4 separate regions of the Homo sapiens genome follow, and all the other regions are linked to region 3. Evidence: fine-mapped expression QTL. A gene starts in region 3. Each other region holds a variant in brackets. All regions are shown on one strand. Distances are between the middles of the regions.

The links.
Region 1: its variant is fine-mapped to the expression of DPYSL4 in whole blood (TOPMed, PIP above 0.99).
Region 2: its variant is fine-mapped to the expression of DPYSL4 in esophagus mucosa (GTEx, PIP above 0.99).
Region 4: its variant is fine-mapped to the expression of DPYSL4 in whole blood (INTERVAL, PIP above 0.99).

The regions. Positions count from the first base shown.
Region 1 is chr10:132,147,066-132,152,207 of GRCh38, forward strand. JAKMIP3 (Janus kinase and microtubule interacting protein 3) reads left to right here. Exons shown (of 24, transcript NM_001323087.2): 14 at 887-985; 15 at 2,347-2,445; 16 at 2,917-2,976. Among named protein-coding and RNA genes, the nearest start is that of JAKMIP3-AS1, 37 kb to the right of the region's middle. RefSeq lists an enhancer at 263-1,225. The variant C/T (reference allele first, on the strand shown) is at 2,930.
Region 2 is chr10:132,264,817-132,269,958 of GRCh38, forward strand. The region is part of intron 1 of STK32C (serine/threonine kinase 32C); the gene reads right to left. Among named protein-coding and RNA genes, the nearest start is that of STK32C, 41 kb to the right of the region's middle. RefSeq lists an enhancer at 1-223. The variant A/T (reference allele first, on the strand shown) is at 2,172.
Region 3 is chr10:132,184,741-132,189,882 of GRCh38, forward strand. DPYSL4 (dihydropyrimidinase like 4) reads left to right here and starts at 2,208. Exons shown (of 14, transcript NM_006426.3): 1 at 2,208-2,362. The coding sequence starts at 2,324. It overlaps JAKMIP3 (Janus kinase and microtubule interacting protein 3), which reads left to right. Exons shown (of 24, transcript NM_001323087.2): 24 at 1-118. JAKMIP3-AS1 (JAKMIP3 antisense RNA 1) reads right to left here and starts at 2,012. Exons shown (of 4, transcript NR_184044.1): 1 at 225-2,012. RefSeq lists an enhancer at 2,927-3,428.
Region 4 is chr10:132,140,596-132,145,737 of GRCh38, forward strand. JAKMIP3 (Janus kinase and microtubule interacting protein 3) reads left to right here. Exons shown (of 24, transcript NM_001323087.2): 11 at 1,325-1,453; 12 at 4,512-4,595; 13 at 4,923-4,985. Among named protein-coding and RNA genes, the nearest start is that of JAKMIP3-AS1, 44 kb to the right of the region's middle. RefSeq lists enhancers at 1,053-1,900, 1,901-2,747. The variant A/G (reference allele first, on the strand shown) is at 3,027.

The sequences.
Region 1 (5,142 bases), 38 kb before region 3:
ACACTTGGAGCCATGCTTTTTTCTGGCTACACTGGGTGCAGATCACATTCCTGGCCCTGCAGGTGTTCCACGGCAGGCCCACTGTGCAGCAGTACACAGCTGGCCCTGCAAGGGGGTCCAGCTCCCACTGAGCCGGCTCACTCCAAGGATGCAATGCTTCTGAGTTTATCTTGGTCCCCTGAGCATCAGAGCAGGTCCCTCAGTCCCTGGAGCTCAGCTTCAGGGGATGGACACAGCTGTCTGCCCCTGGTGGCCCCTGCCCTCATGAGGCTGCTGAGGACACATGCCGTGGGCCGTGTCACTTGACCCTTTGGAAGGGGTGGGGGACTCCTGCATCCGGTTTACTCGTAACTGGTTCCGTTTAAACAGCTCCTTAATTAGCCAAGTGAATTCCGGTGGCCAGGCAGCCGTGGTACCCGCTCCTTCCATTGGGCACAGCCTGGGCTCCAAGGGGCACCCGGGAGCCACCTGGGACATTTACCCTCCACGGCCTCCCTTCCTCATCCTAGCTCAGAGCCCCGCTAAGGCCCCCGTGCTCCTGGCTTGTGATGTACAGCCCCTGCTGGAGACGTTTATCCTTGACGGCCTCCCTTCCACATCCCTGTCCAGGGGCCACCCAAGCTCAGGGCCCCGATATGATCGCCAGGCTCCTGGCTTGTGGTATGCGGTGCTGCCTGCCCAGCCCCACCCACCACCGGATGGCTAGGCTATCTCACTAGGACAAACCCAAACATACCGAGGGCTGTGAGGCGCTTCCAGGGCTGGGTACCAGGCCAGCCGGCCTCCCCGGCAGCCAGCAGCTGTCCCGTCAGCCTGGAGTTGACCTCCCAAGACCTCTGGTGAGAGAGAACCAGACCCCTCACCTCATGCATCTTTTATGTTGCAGATCAAACAAATGGAGACGGAAGAGGCTCGGCTCAGACACGAGGTGCAGGACGCCAGAGACCAAAACGAGCTGCTGGAGTTCAGGATCCTGGAGCTTGAGGTAGCTGAGTGGATGGCCAGCACTGTGGCCTGTGGCTGTGTCAGGGATCTAGTCCTCAGCCTTCCTAACCCACACAAAGCCCTGAACATGAACATGAACATGAACATGAACCCAAAAGGCTGCGTCAGGGAGGAAAGAGGCAAATGGCCGTAAACCGCCACCTCTTCATACCGGCCGTCCAAACATCCAATGGGGAACATGGGCCATGGAGCTCAGTGTCAGGCAGGGACCACCTCTTCATACGAAGGATGAGGCCAGCCGCCCAAAGCACGTGTAAATATGGGGGAAATGGCCCGTGGCGCTCAGTGTCATGCAGGGAAAACAAAACAAAAGCACGACGGGTGACAGTGCAGCATCTGCTCCAGACCTGTGGGGTGAGGAGCTGGCACGTCCGTCCTCCATCTGCCCGTCCTCCATCCGCCCGTCCTCCATCCACCCCCAAGGAGCCGGCACGTCCGTCCTCCATCCGCCCGTCCTCCATCCGCCCCCGTGGCCCTGCTGCAGCTGGTGTGGGGCTCTGTCCAGGCCTCCGCCGTCGGCAGACGTTTGTTTCTTGCCCCTGAGTGAGGACAGTGGGGGCCACGCGGTGACTGGGAGCCCTTTGCCTGTGCCCTGCCATCCCTGGCCCTGTGTCCTCTGCCATGACCTGCACAGGAGGAGGGAGGAGGGGAATCCCACGGGCAGCTCAGGCTGGGTGTGGGCAGCCACGTCGCTGTGATTGTTTCACGGCAAGGGTGGTCCACCTGTGGGGCTGGGAGGAAGTGGCCCACACAGGGGCCGCCCCTGCCGAGCACCACACACAGCCCCGAGGCCTCCGTCTCAGGCCAGCACCTGGAGCCTCACAGTCCAGCTGGAGCCGCCTCTTAAGAGTCTGCCCGTCCACTGCCGGAGGACAGGGCAGCTGTGTGGTCACTCCATGTGTGGACGACCTCGGCCACGTGGGCCTGCCTGTGGGGACAGTGGCAGCACTGCCAGCCTGTGTTCTCCAGAGGCTCCTCTGGTCAGACCTGAAGGGGATGCAACCTGCAGCCCCTCCCCTGATCCTCCCCATAGCCCCTGGGATTCACTGAGGGATGTGCCCGTGGGCTCAGGGTGGGACTGCCCAGGCCACGTGGCCAGAGTGTGATGAACTCTGCCCGGCACATCTGGGGTCAGCGAATATACAGGGGCAGTCCTTGTGGGCAGGTCCAGGTCCAGTGCAGATTCTGCCACCACTGCTGCCGCTGCGGTTTGGTTTTCATAAATGCTGTGTTGATCCCTGGTTCCATGGTCTTGGCCCGTGTTCCTCAGGCCCCAGCACAGTCCTCTTAGAGGGAAGGGATGGGAGGGGAGCGGCTCACCCTTCTGTCCCTCTGTCCTAGGAGAGGGAGAGGAAGTCACCCGCCATCAGCTTCCACCACACGCCCTTCGTGGACGGGAAGAGCCCCCTCCAGGTGTACTGCGAGGCCGAAGGTGTGACGGTGAGTCCCGCCCCTCCTGCCCACTCCGCCCCCACCTCACCCATCCCCCGCCCCACCCCCTCTCCGCCCCCGCCCCACCCCCCTCCGCCCCCGCCCCACCCCCCTCCGCCCCCGCCCCACCCCCTCCGCCCCCGCCCCACCCTCTCCACCCCCGCCCCACCCCCTCCCTGCCCCACCTCACCCCCTCCCTGCCCCCACCCTACCCCTACCCCCCCACCTCACCCCTGCCCCACCTCACCCCTGCCCCCACCCCGCCCTACCTCACCCCTGCCCCCACCCCACCCTACCTCACCCCTGCCCCCACCCCGCCCTACCTCACCCCTGCCCCCACCCTGCCCTACCTCACCCCTGCCCCTCCCCTCCCCCTCCCCCACCCCCACCACCTCCCCTCCGCCCTTCCCTGCCCTGTCCTTCCCCACCCCCTCTGCCCACCCCGTGGCCACTCACCCCTACCTGTCCTCTGTGCCTTAGGACATTGTGGTTG[C/T]GGAGCTGATGAAGAAGCTGGACATCCTGGGCGATAACGCCGTAAGTGTATGTCGCTCTCCTGGCTTGTGCATGCCTCTTACACCCACAACCCCCAGCCCAGCCCCTCTGGGGTCCAGGAGGCCCTGCCAGCCTCCCACAGCCCTGCCATGGGCCACCCTGCCTGAGACCCTCCACTAGGCCCAGAGCCTGCTCAGAATCGGAGCCTTCCTCACACTGCTCCAGGGCCCACTGGGGCCTCTGCTGTGCACACCTGGTTCTTCCAGCTGATGGCACTTCCCATCACATTGCCCAGCTTCTGGGATCTCTCAGCCCTTCCATACTTGCCATGAGGATAGGGGGCTGTTGCTCTTAGACAAACCAAGACCCTTAGGGGTTCCACTTCCTTGGCTTGGGGGAAAAGCAGACTCTATAGATAACTCCTAAATTTCATTTGGGGCAGAGTTCCAATTTCTATAGCAAACTCCTTGAAAGAATGTTAATTACTGAGTGGGCAAAATAATGCACCTCTTCATCCCAATTTTCATCCGCCCATTACTAATCCTCTGCTCTCCATCCATTTATTCCCCATCAATGCACCATCTACCTAGCCCTTCATTCATGCTCTGTCTTATATCCATCCATCTATCTATCCTGTGTAATCCATCCATCCATCCTCCATAATCCATGTATCCATCCTCCACAATTCATTTATCCGTCCTCCATAATCCATCTATCCGTCCTCCATAATCCATCTATCCGTCCTCCATAATCCATGTATCCGTCCTCCATAATCCATGTATCCGTCCTCCACAATTCATTTATCCATCCTCCATAATCCATCTATCTGTCCTCCACAATTCATTTATCCGTCCTCCATAATCCATCTATCCATCCTTCATCCTTCATCTATCCTTCATCCATCATCCTTAATCCATCCATTTATCCATCATCCACAATCTGTCCATCCATCCTCCATCTATCTATCATCCATCATCCCTAATCCATTCATTCTCCATCCTCCATCTGTCCTCTATCCACCATCCTCCATCCATTCCTTCTCCATCTACCATCCTCTACCCATTAACCTTTCACCCATCCATCCATCTCCCATTCATCCTCCATAATCCATCTATTCATTCTCCATCCATCCTTCCTTCATCCTCCATTCATTCATCCATTCTCCAAAATCCATCAATCCATCCACCCTCCATAATTTATCTATGCATCCTCCATCATTCATTCATTCATCCATCCTCCATAAGCTATTTATCCATCTTTCCATCCTTCATCCTTTATCCTTCCACCTATCCACATCCCCTCCCTCCATCCATCCATCTATCCATCCCTCATCCTACCTTCATTGACCTTCCACTTCCTCCATCCAGTGCTCTGCATCCGAGGACTCCCTTCTCCCCTTGCCTGCCCAGCCCCTGGGGAGCAGTGAGGCACAGGGCAGGGGTACTTTCAGCAGGGAGGCTCTGGGTGTGGGTCTGCTTCTCTCAGAGCTGGGGGCTCCACTGTGGTCATAGGTGGCCGAAGAGCCACAGCAGGGTGGCCGTGGACCTGACATCTCTGGGGTCCAGTCCTGGGTATCAGCCCCATCATGAGGTCTTGGGAACTGTATTGGGCAACTCTGATTCACAGTTGGAGAAGCTGAGTCCCCAAAGGCACTGCCCAGGGTCACAGAGCTGATGTAGTGGCAGAGTTGGGGGTACCCAGCCCCACCCAGGCCTATTTCAGGGTTCCTGCCCAGCCCCATAGCTGTCCACCAAGAGTGCCACTGAGTGTGACAGCCCTGCAGTCATCATGCAGCCTCTGAGGCCATTGTCACAGAGCCCAGGGACAGAGGAGGTTGGATACTGGAGGGCTCATGGCCAGGCTTAAGCTCAGGGGACCTGTGGAGATGCTGGGGAGCTCTTGACAGTGGGCTGACAGTGGCCCTTCAAGCCTGGCTGTGCAATCAGTGTTGACTTCACATGCAACTTGTGGTTTAATCACATCTGGGTAGATTCCCTCAGTCACCCTGAAGCCACCTGCTCAGCCTCCCCAACTTAAAGTGTTGGGAGAGGTCTGTGGCCTGCCCAGCCCTGCCATGGGAGAAGGGAGCAGGGCAGGAGAGATGAGGGCACCTGGCCCCAGCCATGCAGGATGAGGTTCTTGCCTGAGTCAGGAGTGCAGCTGGCCCCCACCATGGACTACAGACTGAGCCTGACTCCCCCCTGTGGGAGACCC
Region 2 (5,142 bases), 80 kb after region 3:
TCGCTCATGGCAGTTTTCCTTGATGGAAGACGTAAAAAATCATGTGAATAAATAGGGCGCTTCATTCTGACTTTCACTTTAGGAAAGACGTTAAACTATGTTAAATTCACAAAAGTTCAAGCCTCATCCATCATACCCGTATTTTATTTATACTCCGCCTGATGTCAGAGGATTCAGGACAGCCACACATCTTCCTGACCTGCTGCAACATGAGAACAGTAGAAGGTGCGAGCAGCAGACATGGCCGCAAGGGCGGTGAGGTGGGCTCTGGGGGTGCCTCAAGGGCGGTGAGGTGGGCTCTGGGGGTGCCGCAAGGGCAGTGAGGTGGGCTCTGGGGGAGCTGCCAGGGCGGCGAGGTGGCTCTGGGGGAGCCGCAAGGGCAGTGAGGTGGGCTCTGGGGGAGCTGCCAGGGCAGCGAGGTGGCTCTGGGGGTGCCGCAAGGGCGGCGAGGTGGGCTCTGCAGCCACCCGGGGGACACTCTGCTGGGCACTGGCTCTTCTCCTTCGATGACAGCCCCTGCTCCTCCCTGCCACACTCAGCCCAGGCCTGGCCCATCACAGCGAGGGTGTCCAGGAAGAGCCAGTCCTGGGCTTCTGGAACTAGGGCAGAAGCGACCACCAGAGCTGCAAGGGCAACACACAGCCTGGAGGAGCCTGTGGGGTCCTCACTGCACTCTGGGGCCCTGCCTGGGTGTGAGGAGAGGACACGGTGCAGAGAGACGGAGGGCAGGCCCATCAGCCCCGCACAGCCCTGGGAGGCCTCTCGCTTTCATGGCTCGGGACAATGTCTTTCCTTCCTGCTGAAGGCTCTGGGTCAGGATTCAGCCGCAGGCAGCCAGGGCACACACAAGGCAGTAATAAATGGCAAGCAGCACATTAAAGATGGGCAAGAGGCCCAGGCAGATGCTTCACAGACGAGAAGCTCCCGAAGGCCAATGAGCACAGGAGAGAGGCTGTCCTTAGTCGCCACGGAAACACAAGGAAAACCCAACGCGGGCCCCCTCCATCCCCCCGGACAGCCAGGGAGAGGGACAGCAGCGAGGCCTGGCAAGGACACCGGGCACCTTGACCCACATGCTAGGGGTTAGGGGGTGCCGTGCACGGCCGCTTGGGAAACTCAGGCAGCATCTTAGTTAAACATACACTTGCTGTGCCACCCGGCAATTCCATTCCTAGCTATTTACACAAAAGGAATGAAACAGACGTCTACCCAAGAATGTGCTTTGCTGCCTTACAACAGTCAAATACTGGAAATAACCCAAACGTCCATCAAGAGGATAATGAATAAAGAAATTATGTTATATCCATACGATGGAATACCACTAGGGGACTTCTTTTAAAGGAACAAACTCCCGATCCATAGCCACGTGGATGAATCTCAAAGGTGTTACATTGAGGGAAAGAAGCCAGGTTTACAAGAGCGCGTCGTGCGATTCTGTTTGTGTGAGTTCAAGAACAGGCTGGACGGATCCACAGTGAGAAGCACAGGTTTGTCTCTGGGGGTAGGAAGGGGATGCTTGGAAAAGAGCCCAGAGAACTTTCCAGAAGGAGGACAACGTTCTCTGTCTCCATGGGGGGTCTTGGTTACACAGGTGTGCCCATCTGTCAAAACATCAATCTGCATACTCACATCTGTGCCCTTGACTGTAATTATACCTCAATACAAATAAATAGATCATCTAGATCAGGGACATTCTGTAGTGGAAGCGTTTTAGGCATCTTATCTGAATTTCAGGAAATGGGTGTTTACCTTTGGCAGCAGGAAACTGAGGCTCACTGAGGTTACATGGCCTGCCCACGCCAAGGAGCCCTCAATTTGTCTCCAGGACAACCCCGAGCCCTGGGGGAGGAACGAGCCAGGGCTGGAGGGGAGGAAGGAACGCGGGCGTGGGTGGGGGAGGCGCTGGGCAAGGGAGGCTAGCTCCATGGGGTGGAAGGAGTGGATCACAAATGCTCTCGGGGAGGAGGGCACTGGAGGGGGCTCCACCGGTGGGGCGGGGGGACTCCAAGGAGAGCATCACACAAGCAGGACCTGGGGGCAGCTCGAGGTCAGAACAACAGGACTTCTCAGCCAGCCTTGAGGCATGGAGTGACAATGGACACTGGGGGTGGGGAGGGCTGCGCGGACGAGGCCGCAGAGGAACTGCAGCTCCAACCCCAACAACCACCGTG[A/T]GTGTTGGGAGCTCGGCCGTCACTGAGCGGGCAGCCCCCGCCCACCCCGCTGCAGTGGGGAGACCCAAAGCTGGGTCAGAAGCCGGAGCAGCCCCTTCCAGCCTGTCCTCAGGCTTCCCCGGCCCTGCTCCCCGCATGGTTTCTCTGACCTGTGACACGTGGGCCCTGGGCTCAGTCCAGGCAGTGAGCCAGCTGCAGTAGCAGCCCCTTTAGAAGCAGCAAGCCCAGTGTGGGGTGCAGGTCTCCTTTTGGGGTCCCTTGAAACCTGGCCAAAATGCGAGAAGTCTGCACAGCCCAGCATTCACTTGTATTCTGGAGGCCTGGAATACACCTCAGATCACACCTATGTGTGCGTGTGCCTGTGGGTGTAGCTCTGCACATGTGAATGTGCATGTGTGTCTGTATGCATGTGCATGTATGTTTCTGGGGCTACAGTTCTGTGCATGTGTGTCAGTGCGTGTGCATGCATGTGTATGTGGGTTCAGCTCTATGCCTGTCTGTGTGCATGCATGTCCCACATCGTGTGTGTGTCAGTGTGTGTGCATGCATGTTCAGCTCTATGCCTGTGTGCATGCAAGTCCCACATCGTGTGTGTGTCAGTGCATGTGCATGCATGTGTATGCATGTTCAGCTCTATGCCTGTCTGTGTGCATGCATGTCCCACATCATGTGTGTGTGTGTCGGTGTGTGTGCATGCATGTGCATGCAGGTTCAGCTCTATGTCTATGTGCATGCATGTCCCACATCGTGTGTGTGTGTGTCGGTGCGTGTGCATGCATGTGCATGCAGGTTCAGCTCTATGCCTGTGTGCATGCATGTCCCACATCGTGTGTGTGTGTGTCAGTGCGTGTGCATGCATGTGTATGCAGGTTCAGCTCTATGCCTGTCTGTGTGCATGCATGTCCCACATCGTGTGTGTGTGTGTCAGTGCGTGTGCATGCATATGCATGCAGGTTCAGCTCTATGCCTGTCTGTGTGCATGCATGTCCCACATCGTGTGTGTGTGTGTGTGTCGGTGTGTGTGCATGCATGTGTATGCATGTTCGGCTCTATGCCTGTCTGTGTGCCCACATGTCCCACGTCGTGTGTGTGTGTGTCGGTGTGTGTGCATGCCTGTGTATGCAGGTGCAGCTGTGCCTGCGTGCATGCGTCACATTGTGTGTGTGTGTGTCGGTGTGTGTGCATGCATGTGTATGCAGGTTCAGCTCTATGCCTGTGTGCATGCATGTCCCACATCGTGTGTGTGTGTGTGTGTCGGTGTGTGTGCATGCATGTGTATGCAGGTTCAGCTCTATGCCTGTGTGCATGCATGTCTCTCACATTGTGTATGTGTGTCGGTGTGTGTGCATGCATGTGTATGCGGGTTCAGCTCTATGCCTGTCTGTGTGCATGCATGTCCCACATCGTGTGTGTGTCAGTGTGTGTGCATGCATGTGTATGCAGGTGCAGCTCTATGCCTGTGTGCATGCATGTCCCACATCGTGTGTGTGTGTCGGTGTGTGTGCATGCCTGTGTATGCAGGTGCAGCTGTGCCTGTGTGCATGCGTCACATTGTGTGTGTGTGTGTGTGTGTGCCTGCGTGTGTACATGCATGTGTATGCAGGTTCAGCTCTATGCCTGTGTGCATGCATGTCCCACATTGTGTGTGTGTGTGTCGGTGTGTGTGCATGCATGTGTATGCAGGTTCAGCTCTATGCCTGTCTGTGCGCATGCATGTCTCACATCGTGTGTGTGTGTGTCAGTGTGTGTGCATGCCTGTGTATGCAGGTTCAGCTCTATGCCTGTCTGTGTGCATCCATGTCCCACATCGTGTGTGTGTGTGTCGGTGTGTGTGCATGCATGTGTATGCAGGTGCAGCTCTATGCCTGTGTGCATGCATGTCCCACATCGTGTGTATGTGTGTCGGTGTGTGTGCATGCATGTGCATGCAGGTTCAGCTCTATGCCTGTGTGCATGCATGTCTCACATCGTGTGTGTGTGTGTGTCGGTGTGTGTGCATGCCTGTGTATGCAGGTTCAGCTCTATGCCTGTGTGCACGCATGTCCCACATCGTGTGTGTGTGTCGGTGTGTGCATGCATGTGTATGCAGGTGCAGCTGTGCCTGCGTGCGTCACATCGTGTGTGTGTGTGCCTGCGTGTGTACATGCACGTGTCTGTTGGTTCACGTTGCATCGTGTGTGCATGTGTCACATCGTGTGTGTGTCTGTGTGTGCATGCATGTGCCTGTGGGTGCAGCTCTGTGCATGTGTCTGTGTCTCCGTGCATGTGTGTGCACACGGTGGTATGCACAGGGTGCTGCACAGGGTCTCTTCAAGTGAGCTGATTACGTGCCTGGCCTCATCTGACCGACACATGGTGCCTGGAGCCTGGAAAATCTGCTGCTGAGCTGCAGGACTGAGATGCAGCCTGGATTCCACTGGCCGCACCGGATCTTCCCCTGAGCTCAGGGCTGCCTCCCAGCCCTGCTGGCTGCTGCAGGAGGACCTGGGGAAAGTGTGTGGCAGCAAGCTGCAGCCTCACAGCCATTTATCACCATCACTGCTCTGCTAAGAGCCAGCGCCTCTGGGCTGGCTGCTGATGGATTGATTTTCCCCAAGGGCAGGAAGGCTGCTCGGGGCTAACAGCTAGTGGATGGTCTTATTTTCCAAACCTGAGCTTATGAGACAGACCCCAGGCTGTCGCCCAACCACATCCACCTGGGAGCATTCCAGACCCTTGCCTCGCCTTGCAAAAGGTGGAGGTGGGCCCTGGGGTCCCCTTCAGCCCTGGCCTCCCCCGAATGCCTGTGGGAGCGCTGACTCCAGCGGCACAGTGGGGGCAGTTCTCCCAAGCCTGAGAGGTTGGTGTTGGGAGGAGGCGTTCAGTGAGAGTCCCTAGCCTGCCACGGCCATAATAGCTGACACCCACCCAATGGTGGCCTCCCAGCCACGTGGGCCCCGGATGCCTGAGCCAGGCCCCCTGTCCTCCACGC
Region 3 (5,142 bases):
TATACCAGAGAATTTTTTACTCGTTTGTAAATTATTGTACAGTTTTAATAAAAAATGTTTTAAATCTTAGACGATTAAAGTCCCCTCAAAGGTATTAAAGTTTGAACTGAAAGCCGTATGAGCCATTTCTGCACTTCTGAGTTCATTCTCTGAACAGTGCCTCTGCACACCAGAAACGGAGTCCGCGCCTTCCGCCCACTGTGGAGGAAAGCCCCAGTTCTCACCTGCGAGATCACCTGGAGGGCAAGCTCTGCAGTCGGGTGCCTGGCAGCACCTGGCTCCGGTCGACCACCTGGGAGGCTCCCTCCTGTGGCTGTTGGTCAAATGTGAACCATGGAAGAGATCAGACAGTTAGGAAAGGGACGGAACTTCTGCACGTGCATAAGAACAGTTGGTGATATTTGCCGTGGACGGTCCCACACAGGTGAGTAACAGACATTGCATTAATCATTTAGGGGAGGGGGAGCCCAGAGGAGGACGAAGGGGTGGGAAGCTGCTGGACCTAGCTCTGCTGGCTCGGGCCCCGCCAGTACTCGAGGTCATGGTGACTCAGTGGCCAAACTCTGGCTTTGAAATGCGGACTGCGGTAACAACGCAAAGGCCTGAAGTCTCTGGGTTCGAATTCAGCTGCTGCAGGCTGGGTAGAATGACAGATGGAGTGACAGCATCGCCCGTCACTCCTGTCTCGCCCCAAGCCTCTAACTCGGCTTTAAGGGAGATCAGCAGCAGTTTGCGTGGGCGGGTACACCCCACCCCCGCGCGCCCTCCACACTCGCCCAGGGTTTCGGAGTCAGGGCTTTCTTGTCTGGCGTGGGACGGCCCAAGGGGCCTGGAAATGTGGCCGGGATTCCCACAGCGGTTTCTCCGGTGCGCGCTCCCCGCCCGGCCTTCCCAGCGCCCAGTGTGTCCCGAGGGCGAGCAGCCACGCGTGGCCGGGACTAAGCGAGCACCCAGGGGCCAGAATGGGGCGTTCAGCACCCGCTACGTGGACAGAGCCAGCTCCGCGCAGCGCTGCCGGGCGGCAGGAGGCGGGGGGGGAGGGCGCGGCCTCCAGGTCCGCCCAGTGCACCTGCCGCGCAGACCTCGCTACAGGAGGCTCCGAGACCGGATTCTGTCGCCCGCTCCTGCCGTGACCGCGCGGCAGCCTCAGGAGCCCGCGAGGCCTCTGGCCCGGCCCAAGCTTGGCTGCGTGTTCCGCTGCGTGGAGGACGCCTTCGAGAGCAAGACGCTGCCGCTGGACGCTCTGGGCGGCGGCCGCCCGGGCCCTCGGGTTGGGAGGCGAGTCTGCGCGGCGCGCGGAGACCCCTCAACGGCCGCAGCAAGTCCCCGAGGGCAGCCCGGCGTGGCCCAGGCCCGGGACCCCCAGCAGGTAGTGGCCGCGGGACAGAGGCCGTGGGCCCGGGCTCGGACTCCCCGAGACCCTCGCACCCGGAGGACGCCGGGCGTGGGGCTCCCCCGCTCCCCCCTGCGGGGTCCTCCCTATCCGTAAAGGTCCTGAGCCTTCTGGGTCCTGCGACCACCCCCCACCCCCGCGAGGTCCCGCCCACCACCGCGTCCCGGTCCCTGGGGAGCGCGTGCGCCTCCTTCTGTCTCTCTCTCTCTCTCTCTCTGTCCTATTCGGGCCCCTCCTGCCCTCCGTCTCTCGCGGCCAGCGTGGAACAGCCTCGCGGGGTCACAGCCTGGCGCTCGGACCCTGGCCCGGGTCATCTGCGAAGGAGCCGGCTTTGGCCAAGGTGCCTTCCTGGACGGGTGTGGTTCCCAGAGCGTCGCGGCCCGGGGTTGACTGGCTCGGAATCCCGGGGCCTTGGGCGCCTCGCGTCTCCTGGGACCTGGGTTCCGCGCTGGAGGGCAGCGGGGGCGCGGGCGGGGCCTGGCAGGACGTGGCCGGACTCTCTCCCTCGCCTCCCCGGGGTGCAAACCCCGCGCACATCAGCTGGAGCAGGTTGAAATCCCCACCCAGCGCTCGTCCGCGGGTCTGCGCGGGGGCCCGGGGTGCAGAGATCAGACCCTGCAGCGGTTCCAGCGCTGGGGGGGCTTTAAAGCGAAGGAGTGGCTGAGGGCGGGGGCGGGGCTGATGGGCGGGGTGAGGCGGGGCTCGGGCTGGGGCGGGCCCTATCGGGGGCGGGGCCTGCCGGGGGCGGAGCCGGGGTGGGGGCGGGGCCCAGCGGGGGCGGGACCGGAACGGAGCCGTGCGGCCCCGCGCGCTCGCAGTCTGTCTCCCGCCGTCCCCACGCACGCGTCCCGGCTCACGCGTCCCCCCGCCCGCCCGCCCGCCCGCCCGCCCCCGCTTGTGCCGCCCCTACCAGAGACCCCCAGGAGCAGGATGTCCTTCCAGGGCAAGAAAAGCATCCCCCGGATCACGGTGAGCCCGGTCCCGCTTCGCCCGGCGCCCCCTGCCCGCCGCCCGGAGTGGGGCCTGGACGCCGGGCGGACCCTCCTGGTCTTGTGCGTGGGTGGGGGGTCCCTGCCTTTGCGTCTGGTCCCTGTCCTGGCGCCCGCCCTTCCCTGCTCGGCTCCTTCGCGCCCCAGGGTCCGAGAGTCCCCGCTAGCGCCGCGCAGACCCCCTTAAGGAGCGGGGCGCCCAGGCCCGGCCCGGCCCGGCCCTGCCCGGCCCTGCCGGGCCCTGCCGGGCCCTGCCCGGCCTTGCCCGGCCTTGCCGGCTTCCGGGAGCCTCGGCTGCGCCCGGGGAGAACCCGGGGCCGGGCGGCCTGTCCCTCGGAGCGCTAGCGGCTCCTTTCTCCCACGGCGGTCGGGTGGCGAGGCGGGCGGACGCGGCCCTTTGTTGGCCCGGGCTGGTCCGGGGCGCGGGGAGATGCCGTTCCCGGCGCAGCCCGTGGGTCGCCCGCCCCTTGGACGCACTGGCGCTGCGTCGGGAGCTCTTTGTCCGAGACAAAGCGATTTAGCCCCGGCCGCTCTGGCCGGAGTCCCTGGTGGCCCCGAACCCTTCCAGTAACCTGGGTTCAGCGACTCCAAGGAAAGCGAGCGGTCAAGGGCCACTGGCCGGGAACCCTGGCAGCCCCTGAACCTTCGAGAGCAGAGACCCCTCCCCAACACCCACACGCACCGGCGCGGGAGGTCCCGCTCTGCCAGAAACAAAGCCTCCCCGCTCGGGCGGGGGGAGATGGGGGTGGGAGGAAGGAGGCTTCGGGACCCGGCAGGACCTGGGCGGGGGAGTCCATGGGGTCCCAGACCCGACTCTGGACTTGGCCTCGGCGGGAGGGCCGTGGGGTCTGACCTCTGGCATTAGCTCGAGCCGTGGGCTGTGGGCTCCACTCCCCCAGACTCTGAGCGAGGAAGGAGCCCTCCCCTCTCCAGATGGGAGGGGCTGCTGCCTCCAGAGGGTTCTGCCCGGCTGGGTCTGGTCTTGATGCAGGAGGTCTTGCCAGTCAGCTGGCATGTGGGGGTCGAGTTTGGGGGTGGCAGGAGGACCCCTTCCCAGGGGAGGTCAGGCAACCATGTCAGTGCGGAGGGGCAGCTGCTTCCCGGGAACTTTCACCTCCATCCGGATGAGTGCAGTAAGAAGAGCACAGCCCCACACCCCAGCTGCGTCTCCTCTGGGTTCCAAACCCAGTCTCAGTGCGGGTGCCTGAACACTTGGGCGCCTATGAGCAGAGAGCCCAGACCACACGTCTCCTCAAGCCTCCTTCTGCCCGGTTGCGTTTTCTAGGGCTTCCTTGAAAATGCGTGGGTCCCCTGGGAGGGGTGGAAAGTGAAGAAGAGGGACAGCACCGGGAAGGCAGCCAGGGCCTGATGCGGCCACAGAGGCTCTGCAAATGCATGGTGGTGCCGGGTCAGGGCTGAGCCTGGCGCTCAGCTGGGACTGGGCAGGAGGAGGAGAGGTGCAGCGGCTGGGAACAGACAGCTCTGTAGACCAAGGGTCTAAAACTTCTTCCACAACCAGCCCGAGAGTAAATGTTGTCAGCTTTGCGGACCACGCTGTTCCTGTCTCAGCTGCTTGGCCCTGCCAGGAAAGCAGTCCTGGACATTTAGGAAGTCGATGGGCACCACTGTGTTCCAACAAAACTTCATCTGTGGATGCTGCAGTGTGAACTTCATAGAATTTTTGAGTCATGACATACTCTTGTTATTGTTTTCAGTGAATATACAAGAACGATTCTTAGCCTAGGGCTGTATGAAGAGAGGTAGAGGGTTGGGTCTGGCCTGTGGCATAGTCTGCCAACCGTTTGTAGACTATGGGGTAGAGGTTGACAAGTCACTGGGATCCTGAAAATACAGCCCCACAGTTAGATGTCAGCAGTGAATCCTGTAATGGAGTTCCTAGATAATGAACTCCTTCTCATTCTGAGAGTTTTACCAATTGTGCACTTCAGTTTAATGCTCTTGGCTTCAGACTGACGGTGCGTGAAGGCTCTAGCCCCAGGCTAGGGCCCTGGCCACCTATGGGTGGGCCCTGGAAACCCAGAGCAGGCGGCCGGACCTCCCTGTTAAATGCAGACGGTCAGTCCTGCCGGGTCAGTTGCAGGGCGTGCTGAGGCGCACGCCAGACGGTGGAGGGAAAAGCGTTGCCGAGTCCAGCCCGTGGGCGCGTCCTTCTCCACCTCCTTTCACTCCTTTTTTGTGTTTCTCTCCCCCATTCTCCAATGAGGTCAGATCTTCACCTCTGACGGTCATGCAGAGTCCCATCAGTGACACCCTACTTTCTGCCTAATCTTCTGCTTCCCGGCCATCTGGTAGGATTCTTAGAAGTGGATTTATGACTGCCAAGCACTGGAGTCAATCCCTGTCTAACGCCACAGCTCTGTGCTGCCAGGGCTGACCTACAAAGAGCGGGCCTCACCAGCCTGACGCTCTGTGTCCCACTGGGAGTGCGTCCGAGCTGCACTGGAACCGAGGTCACCCCATCTCTTCCCCATCACCCCCATGGCCTCTTGGTCAGCAAGTCCTGCCCTCCTGACTCCCAGCCTCTCTGGAATCCACTCTCCTCCCGTCCCTTCCCATAGTCCTGTCCCAGAGCCCCTCATCTCACTCAGAAATCACCCCAGCAATGATCCGGCTCCCACTGTTACCTGTCACAAGCTACTTTCTAACACAGCAGCCAAAGGTGATCTCTTTAAAACATCAAACCAGGATTGAAACCTGCTTAAGGCCCCCAGTCAGGGGGCAGCCATGGAGTCCCCAGGC
Region 4 (5,142 bases), 44 kb before region 3:
GCCGGGTCCTGGGCTTGGAGGAGGTAACGAGGGTCTCCTGCCGGGTCCTGGGCTTGGAGGAGGTAACGAGGGTCTCCTGCCGGGTCCTGGGCTTGGCTGGGCATGGGCTGCCGGCTTTTCACGGGGAAGCCCTTCGCGGCCCTCACTGGCACTGACCCGCTGATAGCTGACTCGGGCACGGTGAGAAGCTCCCATGACATGGCTTGGGGTGTGGGCTGAGGCCCGCTCTTGCTCCCATGAAGGCCAAACCATGCCTCCTTCTGCCACTGAGCCTACGCCCCTTCTGCATAGGGGTACGGTGAGCTCTCCCTTCCTAAGGGGCCTCCCCAGGAGGGTCTGAACCACTCATCAGGGAGTTTGGTCTCAGTGCCAAGAGCACATTAGGGTGAGGGGTGTTGAGCAGGAGTTTTCTTTCTGATAACAGCACAGGTGTGTCTGCCCACCAGCCCCTTCTTCCAGAAGGACGGCTACCCTCAGGCGCAGGCAGCCATTTCAGCACCAGGTCGGGGCTTGGTGTTGTGGGACCCAGACCCTGTGGCTGTGGGACAAGGAGTGGGGTCTGCAGTCAATGGCACAGCCAAGGATTGGGCCTCCCGTGGCAGACCCTGGAGGGTGGCCCAATGGCCATAGACCTGTTGAGGGATCTAAGACATCCTCTCACAGCCTCAGGTGCAGGGTTGGGCAGGGGAACTGGGCCAGGCCAAGGCTTCTGGGCTCAGTCACTCCTAGACGTGGCCAACCCTTCCAGCCCCGGGGGTCCACCGGGACCCTTTGAAGGCAGCAGCAGGCTCACCTGTCTTCTCCCTGGGGTGACGGGGGGCACTGCAGCTAGCAGGGTGAGCCTGCAAGAGTGCACCTGGGAGGAGACGTGCTGCCTGGGGTACTTTACCCCCTTCACAAAGCCCAGCTTTCTTCCCAGGACGTGTTTCAGCAGAGCAGAGCGTGTGCAGGCCTGGTTGGTAACAGAGGGTCTGCTGGGTCAGGGCAGCCTGGCTAGCAAGCAGGAGCCCCAGCTGAGCCCCTGGCCATGGCCACCAGCCCAGCAGGCTCACCCTGTCCTCAGCCGTGCAGCCGACTCAGCTCCCACCCCAGGGCTCGGTGCTCCCCTCCCCAGGGAAACCTTTCTCCAAACAGCACTGAGTCCCCAGGCAGCCGCCCCTCCCTGCACACTGGAGCAGGTCCCCTCCCTCATGCTGCTAGAGAGACCCCCCCATACACCATTTGATATCTGGGGAGAAGGGAAGCCCCGGGGCCCCGCCATCGGAGGAGGTGCTGGCTACTGACACTGTGTCTCTGTGCGTGTGTGGCATCCGTGTCTCTCCAGGGCATGGCCAAGGAGGAGACGGAGCTGAGGTTCCGGCAGCTGACCATGGAGTACCAGGCCCTGCAGCGTGCCTACGCTTTGTTGCAGGAGCAGGTTGGAGGGACGCTGGACGCAGAGCGAGAAGTTAAGGTCTACGTGACTTCCACCGCGCGTTCCGGCCCCCCTCGTGCCTTCCCGCTTGACCCCGTGGCCTGGGCTGGGACACCCCCCTCACTAGCCCTCCTGGGCCCGGGCCCCTCCTCTCCTGCCCTTGCCTGCAGTCCTGGTGGTGCCCATGGAAGCCGATCAAAACCAGGGATTGGGGATCCCGGTGCTGGGAGTTGGCCCAGGTGGGAGGGACTGGCCCAGAGCGGTGCCAGGCACAGGTGTGAGTAAGGGTCCTGGGGGAGGCGGGGTGGTAGTGGTGGCAGGGGCCCACAGCGCCCAGGGTGGGCCTCCTTCCAGACCACCTCTTCCACTCTTGGCAGCATGGCGATGGCCCGTGGCAGCATCGAGCTCGGTGTTGAAACTTGTGGAGGTCATTCATCCTCAAAGGCTGAGCTCACACAGGCTGTGCCTGCCCCGGCCCCGGCCCCGGCCCCTCTCCCCCGGCCTCCCCACTGGGCAGCACCCCAGCAGCCGTGTCCCTCCGCCCACTTCCCTGGCTCACCTTAGCGTCGTCCCCCAGGAAAGGCCTCAGTGTGGCTGGCGGGTGCCCTCTGCGGGCCGTGGAGGGCAGTGCAGGCACCAGGCCTCGTGGGGAGAGCGTGGGCCATGGGTCGGGGGTCCTCTTGCCGCCCCACCCTCCCTTACTGAGGCTCGGAGGGGAAGCCGCTGGAGGACCTGCACCTGGTACCCCTCACAGCGAGACGGGCTGCTTTCCGGGGGAGCTGAGGGGTTCTCCAGAGCAGGCAGCTGTGGGGTGTGGGGTTCCCGTTGGCCTCCCCACCCCAAAACCACCCTGCAGGGCCAGAGATGCCAGTGTCTGGCAATTCTGCAACTTAGGGTGGCTGAGCTGGGTGGGGGACGGACCTCTTGGGGCGAGGGGAGAGTGTCCACAGAGCATCCCCAGCGTGGTCCACGCTAGTGCCCCAGGGAGCCGCCAGCCTCATCCTCTGTCCACCCAGACCGCCCTGGTGACGTGGCTGGTTTCCCTCCTGCCTTCCTGGCACCTCATTGGGGACGTCTGTTGTGAAAACTAAGAGAGAGCTCCACCCCTCTGTGCCCTCCTCCTGTCCTGAGTCGGGGTGGGGGGGGCTGGCCTTGGAGGGGGCGTCCCCTCCTCAGGCTCGGAGAGATTTGTCTCCGTAACTGGGGACTTTAAATATCGCCTCTTTCACTTTGACTTAATTTTTGCATGACCCTTGGAGAAAGGAAAAAGTCAAGGCCTCGGTTCAGAGCATCATAAAGCACAGCAGCCCCGAGACATCCCAGAGCCTCATGGGCCCAGCCTTTCTCCCTCACAGCGGGGGCGGGGCAACAGCCGCATCCTCCTGGCCAAGCTCGCCAGGAGCTGGAGGAGCTGGAGAAAGCATCCTGTCTTCCCTTTTTCCTGTCGGGTGCCAGAGAAACATTTGCTCGGGGGCCACATGGAAGCAAAGAACTCAGAAGCTTTGCTTAGAGAGTAAAAATGTCCAAACTGCATGTAAAAAAAAGTTTAATGTCATTTAGAATCAGAGGAAAATCTGATGCCGAGAAGTGCTGCATGGTTATTTTAAAAACT[A/G]GAAGATACAGAAAAGATTAATGAAGAAAATAGACTAGCCGGCATCCCACAGTCTGATTCTGTATTATAATTGGAAATGTCACTCCTCACTGTGGAAATCGAGGAAGCCTCAGGATAAGGAAGGGGGCAGGAGAGGACAGGCGTCTGAAGACATGGACGTGGGCCCATCCCTGCCACGGTCCTGAGGCTGCAGGGGGCCCACAGCCCTCTGTGGGCTCCGTTTCCCTGTCCGGAAACAGGGTTAGGACTAACTGGAATTCCCTCTCTGCTAAGCATTCTCCAACCCAAGGGCTCACATCCACGATTGTGACCCCTTAAGGGAGGGAAGAGGCTGGGGTGATGGGAGGAGCCCAGGACGGCCTGGGGGCAGGGAGCTGGGACCAAGCACTCGGGGGCGGGCACCACAGGTCACGCCTTCGCCCACCCCCCACCCCGGCTGATGGATCCTCTGACCCTGCGTCCTGTCCCGAAACGCACCTCTCCCTTGGAAGCTATCCCCAGAGAGAGCAGGAGCCACTGTGGCCCCATGGTTCGGAGCCACCACAGCAAAGTGAATTAAGGGAGGTGGCTCAGACCTCGGCTAGAAGCCTCGGTGGCACTCGGGAGGGACTTCACAAACCAGGATGCGGACGGGGGAAGCGCCAGGGCTTTTCCTGTAGATGTGGGGCGGGCTCTGGGAGTCAGTTAAGGAACACAGAATTCAGGAAGGCAGTGAGCCCTGGGCTGAGGCAGCTCCCGCACAGGCAGCCACACCACCCGGGGCTTCCAGAGGGGCAGCTCCAGTACAGGCAGCGGCACCACCCGGGGCTTCCAGCGGGTCCATGTGGAGAGTCCCTCGAACAAAGCCCTCTGGCCGGCACCTGGCAGGGCTGAGCACACGCTAGGCCTCAGTCATCCTCATTGGCTGTGTCATCCTGTAAACAAAGATTTCTCCTAACAGGCTCTCAAAATCAACCTGCAGGATTTCCCCTTAGAATCTAAGTGAGATCTCTTGCTTCAAATAAGCCTTAAAGTTCTCCCTCCAGGGCTGGGCGCAGTGGCTCACTCCTGTAATCCCAGCACTTTGGGAGGCTGAGGCAAGTGGGTTGCTCGAACTCAGGAGTTTGATACCAGCCTGGGCAACATGGTGAAACCCCGTCTCTACAAAAAATACAAAAATTAGTGGGGTGTGGTGGTGCATACCTGTGGTCCCAGTTACTCAGGATGGTGAGGTGGGAGGATCACTTGAGCTCGGGAGGCGGAGGTTACAGTGAGCCAAGATTGTGCCACTGAGCTCCAGTCTGGATGACAGAGCCAAACCCTGTCTCAAAAAAAAACAAAACAGTTCTCCCTCTCTTAGAAAGCATCTCTTCCAAAGGAAGGGCGAACAGTCACTTCTCAATGAACTGAACCAAAAGACAGACCCTTCTGACGTCCCACGAGTGTGTGTGCTGTCTGTCCCAGCTTTTAGAGAAAATTTGATGTATCTTTCCTCCCGTCCTACAGACCCGTGAGCAGCTACAAGCCGAAGTGCAGAGGGCACAGGCGCGGATAGAGGACCTGGAGAAGGCCCTGGCGGAGCAGGGGCAGGTGAGCCTGCAGCCATCTGCACGGGCGTGGGGGCACACGTGGGTGGGAGGTATTTGGCTGTACCTAAAGACAAGCTTCAGTGGTGCGATCATAACTTTCTACAGCCTTGACCTCCTGGGCTCAAGCCATCCTCCCACCTCAGCCTCCTGAGTAGCTGGGACCACAGGCATGTGCCACCACGCCCGGCTAATTTTTGTATTTTTTGTAGAGACGGGGCTTTGCCACGCTGGCCAGACTGGTCTTTGGTGTTCTGCCACATCACGATTTAAACGTTGGTTTATGAGTTCCTCCCTCAGTGTCTTTATTTCTTTCAATTCCATTTGCAAGGATATGAAGTGGATTGAAGAGAAGCAGGCACTGTACCGGAGAAATCAAGAGCTTGTGGAAAAGGTGAGCCCCGAACCCCTGGAGGCCCTGGCAGGACTCGCTCTATGCTCCTGGGGGTTGCAGTGGTCCCTGCGGGGCTGAAGGATGGAGCGAGGGCTGAGGCTTCTGAATGGCTGTCCCAGGCCCCTTCTGCTCTGCTCCCTCCTGCGGGACCCCATCA